Linked DNA regions of Homo sapiens. The protein of the gene in region 2 purifies or fractionates together with the protein of the main gene of each other region. This does not show direct contact. Each region holds a gene or a part of one and is shown on either strand. Other genes may lie near its edges.

Region 1 (3,733 bases), on a different chromosome or scaffold from region 2:
TGCCCGCCAGCTTCTGCATGTGGAAGGTGCCATGGATCTTGAGCTCAAGCGTGGAAGTGACTGTCTGCATGCAGACCACACAGCGGAAGCCCGTGAGTGAGTTGCGCAGGTCAGGGTGCATCTGGCAGTGCTCAATAAACTCCTCCTCGCTCTGCAGGGGCATCTTGCAGATGCGACAGGTGCCCGTGTCCAGGCTCTTGCTGTGGGTCACCTTGTGTTCGGTGAGCGTCAGCAGCGAAGGGAAGCGCTCACCACAGATGGGACACATGTAGTGCTTGGCAGGGCCCCGGTGCGTCTGCAGGTGCTCCCGTAGCCCGTTCTCCGAGAAGAAAGTCCGTGAACAAACGTTGCACTTGTGACTGCCCTTGATAAACTCAGCCTTCTTGCGTGAGCCATCATCCTCGCCCGGCCGGATATTGTGGTCCCGCAGCCGGTGATTCTGCAGCAGCACCTCCATGGTGTAGGCCGCCCCACAGATGTCACAGCCGTACATGGGCTCCGACGCGTCCACGTCATCCTCGCTGGCCTCATGGCTGTTAGGTGCCTCAGGGTTCTTAAGCAGCATGCCCTGCAGGTCAGCAGGCTCAGCTTTCTTGGTGGCCATTGGGGGTACCCCATTGGCCGTGCCGTTCTCGGTCGCAGCATCAAACACACAGTGCTTCTCCCGCAGGTGCTTCTCCAGCAGGATGATGGCGTGGAAGGCCTTGCTGCAGAACTTACAGTTATACTTCTTGCTGTGTGTGGTGATGTGGCACTGCAGCTCCACCTCGGTGCTGAAGGTCTCCCCACAGAAGATGCACTTGTGAGCCTTGGCCGGGTTGCCCAGGTGGCTGTGTTTGACGTGCACCTGCAGGTCAGCCTCCTTGCGGAAGTCCCAGTTGCAGGCCGTGCAGCGGTACATCTTCTTCTCATTGCTGTGCTTCACCGCCAGGTGCACCTGGATGGACACCTTGGAGTCGAAGACCTCCTGACACAGGGTGCAGTGGTACAACACAAAGGTGTGCATGTCCAGCAGGTGCTTCTGCAGGTCATCCACCGAGGAAAATTGCTTGTCGCAGCTCTCGCACACATAGTGGGTCGACGTGGTCATGTAATGCACTGTCAGGTGCTGCAGGAGGGACTCCTGGGAGTCAAAGTCCTCTTTGCACTGGGGGCACGCTTGCTTCCGCAGCAGCAGCTCCAGGTGCAGCTTCAGGTGGGTCTGGAAGCTCTCAAAGTTGGAGAACTTGAGGTCGCATTGATTGCAAGGATACTCCCCATTGGAGATGGAGTTGGCGCTTGCTGAGAGCCGCTGCCGCTTCGGGGAAGACACCTCCACATCGGACGAGACTGGGCTCTGCTCGGCCTTGGACTTCTTGCTGTGGGCCAGTGGAATGTTCTTGTGGTTCTCCTTGATGTGCTTGGTGAGTTTCAGGATGGAGCCAAAGATGGGGGAGTTGGTGCAGTAGGGGCAGGAATAGACCTCCATGAAGGACTGCGTGGGCTGCACCACCGGAGACTCTAGTTTGGCACTGCCCACACTGCAGTGGGCCTGCTGGATGTGCTCGGTGAGGGAGGACTCAGTAAGGAAACCCATGGAGCACTGGTTGCAGAAGAAAGCATTATTACCGTCAGAGGGGTTGGCGTTGGGGCCGCAGTGGGAGACGCGGATGTGCTCCTGCAGGCTATTGATGTCGGCGAACATCTCGGGGCAGTAGTTGCAGTGGAAGGCAGAGATGTTGCCAAACTGCATCACAGGGTAGGCATGGTTCTTGTGCAGCTTGCGAACGTGCTCGTTGAGGTTGTAGAGGGTGGGCATGGAGTCCAGGCAGATCTGACATGTGTGGCTCTGCTGGGGCTTGTCCGCGTGGATGGTCTTCAGGTGGATCTCCAGCACGGCCAGGCTGTTAAAGTCCCGCTTGGAACAATAGGGGCAGCTATAGACCACCTTGGTCCAGCCCTGCCCGTCATCCCGCATCTTCTTCTGCCCCCGCAGCGGCTTCAAGGTGGAGTCCGGGGTGGAGCCACGCTCCACAGAGGCGCTGGAGTCGGGTGTGGCGCTGCTCATGGAGGCCACGCTGCCCAGTACAGGGTCGGGACTGACACTGTGGTTGCTGGAGTCGGGCTGCCGGTGGCTGTCCAGGTGGCAGTAGACACCTTCCACTGAGGAGAACTGCTCAGGGCACATGGGGCACTTGTGTTTCTGGTTGGCGTGGGCTTGGTGGATATGGGCGAGCAGTGTGTTCTCGTCGACGAAGACCTCAGGGCAGTGAATGCACTGCAGGTCCGCCTTCTCGGACAGCTGCGGGTGGCGGGTGAGCACGTGCTTCTCCAGCTCCTCCGTCTGGCTGAAGGTGTCCTCGCAGTAGTCGCACATGAAGTCGTCCTTCTTGGCTTCCTTCTCCGACTTGGCCAGATGCTCCTTGTTCTTTTTGTGGGCCTGCATGTGGCTCTGCAGCGAGCTGGTGGAGGAGAAGCCGCGCTTGCACACAGTGCACTTGAAGGGCTTGCTGGAGCTGTGGGTCTTCAGGTGGATCTTGAGGTGGTCGCTGCGGGAGAAGGCTGCCTCGCACTCGTGGCAGTGATACTTCTTGTCGCCCGTATGCAGCTTGATGTGCCGGTCACGGCTCCTCTTGTGCTTGAAGAGGCGGCTGCAGTAGGTGCACTTGAACGGCAGCTTGTCGCTGTGGATCTGCTCGTGCCTCTTCAAGTAGCTCAAGCGGATGAAGGACTTGTCGCAGAACTGGCAAGGGTATGGCAGGCCCGTGCCCCCTTCCTCCTCGCCGAGGCCGAGGTCACAACCATCTCCGATCATCTGCGTGGGTGACGCAACATCCTTGCTGGAGGGAGACGAGGCCACCCAGGAGAGTTGTGGGTCGTCATCACCATCTGCAAGAGAAGGCAGAGAGGATATTAGAGGCAATTCCCAGGGCTGCCGAGAAACAAGGACAGAGCCAGCTTCTCGACAGCACGCGGGCTGAGGCTGTGCAGCTGGCCAACGGCTGCAGGGGGCTGTGGGGAGGGGCAGGGGCCGGAAGCAAGTGGACACCAGGGCCTTCCTGTCTGCAGAGGGCACGCCAGAGGGGCGGCAGATAATGAAGGGGGAGCGCCTTTTCCCTTCACAACACTTGCCTGGACCTGGCAGGACATGATACCCCCCATCAGAGGGGAGGCTCTCGGCCACTTTCCTGATAGGGAAAGGAGGGGCAGCCTGGACAAAGTCACTGGAAACGAACTCACAGACCACCAGTCCCATAGGCCAAAAGGAAGACAAGTCCTGTCACTTGATCCACACCTGGGAGTCAACTCCCCTCAAATCCCTAATCCTGGAGGGAAGGAAATCCCACTGGTCCTTATGAACACAGGCAAAATTTTGCAACAACAAAAATGCCCTTATCAGATTGGCCATAGAATGCACCATTCTCTGGGTATGGGTGGACTGATGGAGCTGGAAGCTGCTGCTTCAGGTGGTAGACAAGACATAGGAGGTGTGAAATCACAGGGCAAGAGACAGCAGACTTCAGTGCTCAGGTGGGAAGGGAACCTAGGGCACTGAAGAGGCATCTGTGGGTTTCCTGGCCCAGGCCATCCTGAGACCCTTGTTTTCTTTGTTCCCACTGCACCCCTGGATTTGCCCCAACCCCACCCAGGATCAAGACAGATGGAGAGATGGTGACAGTGATTGGAGGATGAATGAGGACATGGAAGGCCACAGAGCTCAGACCCAGGCGGACCCTTAACCCCACTGCAAAGG
Region 2 (3,733 bases):
TGCTGATGACCCTAGTGCCTAGCACACTGCCTGGCACACAGTGGCCCCACAATAAACACATAAAAGATCTCCAGTAATGAAAGGTAGCACGTGCTAAGTTCTGTATAGTGAAAGTGGATGAGAGCCTGCGAATTCAGGGAAGGTTTGTGCTGGAAGCATCGTCTGAGCAGGGCAGAGCAAGGTGGCTGGGTGAGGGATGGATCTGAGCTTCTTTGCTTCAGGATGCCATGAAAGGCACTGATTTCTCCTTTCTCATTGCCCCTCTCAGTAGTGCCATCCAGCCCCACCATGGCCTCCTCCACAAGCCTCCCCTCCAACTGCAGCAGCTCCTCGGGCATCTTCTCCTTCTCACCAGCCAACATGGTCTCAGCCGTGAAACAGAAGAGTGCTTTCGCACCAGTCGTCAGACCCCAGACCTCCCCACCTCCCACCTGCACCAGCACCAACGGGAACAGCCTGCAAGGTAAGCCCCAGGCCCCACCTGCCAATCCAGATTCAATGCCCTGACTTCACCCTCCCAGGGCCTGAAGCAGATGCATCACCATTGCTGAGGGTATCAGCCTTGGGCCCTGCCTGATTCTCTCTGCCCTCATCTCTTCTGTTCCTTTGTATTTGCTCTCCTCAACCCTGGCCCTTGGCCCTTGGCCATACTCATCTCTCCTCTGCTGGAGGTGCTCAAGAAGTCCTCTTTCCAACTTCAGCAATTCTGCTCAGGCCCGGGATTTGCTTGGGAATACTGTTTCTACTGACTAACAGCATCATTTCTCTTTTCTCCTCTTTCACTCCTTGTGGTCGCCATTATCAGATCAGTCTTTTGTGGACTCTAGCAAGTTCTCCAGTGCAGGGTCTCTCCCGGGACTGGCCTTCTCCTGAAGTAGGTCACTCAACCTTCCCTTCCTGTTGCCTGTGTCAGAGTGAACGTGTGTGGGGCTGATAACAGGGAGGGGGTGAGCCATAACTTGATCAGAGCCCTGAAGTTAGATCATCATAGACCAAAGGCCAAAGACTTCCTACTGGGATTAAGAAACCCCAGAACACCACTAGAGTATTCTGATTCATATTAAAATTGTTCAATCGCTTTCCCACCATTGCATTTGGAAAATAAAATAGTTGCTAAGAGTTGAGATGACCTTTTCATTAAGAATAAAAGGTTACCCACCTTTTAAAACTGAGCACACCATTTCTTACATTTTTCTTATGAGCTTAGCACTCTGTTGTGTGTCATATGTTGAGACCTGCACAACCTCATTCATTGCCCCCAGCAGGATTGTGTGGTAGGTACTCATATCTGCTATTTGACAGATGAGAAAACTAAAGGTTAGAGAGGTTATGAAATTGCCTGACTTTTAACAGCTGATACATGGCAGAAGCTGGCTTCAAATTCAGACTGAAACATTCATCTCCTAAATACTTTATTATTCAGAGGTGCTAAAAGAGACATAGCCAGGGTTCCTAAGGCAGCTGGTAGGGAGATAAGATTAGTAAACTAGTCAACCACCATTTATTGAGCACTGAACAGTGTACCTGGGGCTGTCCTATGCATGGAGCAGATTTTATACCATTTAATCCTCACATCTTCCTAAAGTATGAGGGCCATTATGGTCTTCATTGTGCAAATGATAAAATGGAAGCTTAAAGAGGGTAAATACCTGACCACAGACATAGTCGGTTAAACGGTGGAGATGAATGTAAGCCCCATCAGAGTCTGTGCCCTTAAGCCCAGCCATACAAAGTTTCCCACAGTGTCTTCCCTTGGTGGCTGGCATCTCACTGATGGAGGTCAGCCTGGAAGTCAGGGAGGGGTGAGGAAGGCAGTGCACATGTCTGGGATATCTCAGCCCTGTTTCTTATGTACAAGTACATGCATATTTCTACTTGTCTACACATACTGTGTGCTGGATGCTTTACACTGTGATGAGCATATAGTGATTCTCCTGAAGACCGTATGATGTCAGCACTAGTCCCATTATACAGATGGGAAACTTGAGGCTTAATTTGATCCAGGTCACATGGCTAATAAATAGTACAGCTAAACTGGAACACAAGCCATGTGACCCCAGAGCCTGAGCACCCGATCACGTTGTCTTTCTGCCTCCAGGAGGACTCTTCAAAATACTCCTCAGAACCTTGCTTGCAAATCTGCCCAGCACAGCCCAGACTCAGCGCCCCACAGAGCACGCCGCTCTTCCCCACTCTAACATACAGTGGCAAATCCATCTTCTTAGAGGAAAGAGGAAAAAAAAAAAAAAAGCGTGCCTGTGCAACTGCATTTCAGGCAATATTACTCATGATAGAAAATGCCCACCTCCACAAAGTAGAGCCACCCATTCCTGCAAATCTCATTCTCTTTCAGCTAAAAATAATGCTTTGTCACCCTCAGTACACCTCCAGCTGGCAAACTAGGGATATAATGCTTGAGCGAATATAACTTATAATAGGTTTAAATAATGATCATACATATGGAAAGCAGAAATTTACCATTCTTGAGCTGCCAATCTCAGCCCTTGCTAAACATAGATTTGACATCAGAAACAAGATATGATGGGGTTTATAATCAGCAGTTGACGGGAAGCACTGGAGAAGAAAAGGCCCCCACTATTGGAAGGTCAGTGGCTCTATCATAGGCCAACAGTGACAGAAGTGGGCAGCTCCCAGGAGGCCCGATGTCTTCTCATGCCCTGTGGTCCTAGGAAGGAGCAGGAAGTGGTTGGAAACAGGGGCTGGGCTCAGATCTTATGACTTCCTGGGTTTCAGGAGATCTGGTTATCAACTGAAAGCCAGGATCTGGATGAGGGTATGTGCCTGTTTAAGTCATGATGAAATGGCTTCAGGACAGGGATATATACAAAGTTTGTGCATTTGTCCTCCCAGGGATTTTCCAACTCAATTCTTACCCAATTACAGATCCCAAAAGTACAGAGACTGTCCCCATTTCTCTGAATAACTGCTGAGTCTGTGCCTCTCTGTCACCTTTCCTAACACAGGGCCACAGTGTGGGAGGTTTGAGGTCTGATTCAGGGACACACCTTGTGCTGGATTCACTGTTGTGGATGACACTGCCCTTTCCTTCTGATTGAACAAATGTCAAGGAGACTTTTTTGGATTTTCCCCTATCCCATGCCCTGACTATTGAGCATGATAAAACAACTATAAAAAGAATGGACTGGGCGTGGTGGTTCACACCTGTAGTCTCAGCACTTTGGGAGGCTGAGGCAGGTGGATCACCTGAGGTCAGGTCTTTGAGACCAGCCTGGCCAACATGGTGAAACCTCGTCTCTACTAAAAATACAAAAATTAGCCGGGCCTGGTGGTGCAGCCTGTAGTTCTAGCTACTAGGATGACTGAGGGAGGAGAATCACTTGAACCTGGGAGACAGGTTGCAGTGAGCTGAGATCGTGCCACTGCACTCCAGAGCAAGACTATTTCAAAAAGAAAGACAGAAAGAAAGAAAATGGTTTTTGGTTTGCTCGTACTGTCATATACCAAATATCCCTACTTTTGAGATGTCAGTGATGGACATACGGATGGAGAAATTAAAGTCAAATTAATGTAAACATCTCACTTTAAGCTCTTCTTTCTGCCCACTGCACCCCCAGGTGCTGTGCTGGCAGGTGGGGCCCACACTCTGGGACTTGCCTCTTTAGCCTCTGCACACAATCTCCAGCAGGGCAAAGAGGACCCAGCCTTAGGTGGGCACCAGTTTTTCAGGGCACTCTTGCTTGAGCCACAAAAG

The links.
Region 1: the proteins of EBF1 (region 2) and ZNF423 purify together in Homo sapiens (affinity purification with western blotting; one study listed by BioGRID). This does not show direct contact.

What each region holds. Positions count from the first base shown.
Region 1 is NC_000016.10:49,636,007-49,639,739, forward strand, and holds part of ZNF423 (zinc finger protein 423), read right to left. Parts: intron 2,869-3,733; coding exon 1-2,868. UniProt on the Homo sapiens protein: Transcription factor that can both act as an activator or a repressor depending on the context. Plays a central role in BMP signaling and olfactory neurogenesis. Associates with SMADs in response to BMP2 leading to activate transcription of BMP target genes.
Region 2 is NC_000005.10:158,704,709-158,708,441, reverse strand, and holds part of EBF1 (transcription factor COE1), read left to right. Parts: intron 1-268; coding exon 269-463; intron 464-805; coding exon of another isoform or gene 806-873; exon of another isoform or gene 874-874; intron 875-3,733. UniProt on the Homo sapiens protein: Key pioneer transcription factor of B-cell specification and commitment. Recognizes variations of the palindromic sequence 5'-ATTCCCNNGGGAATT-3'.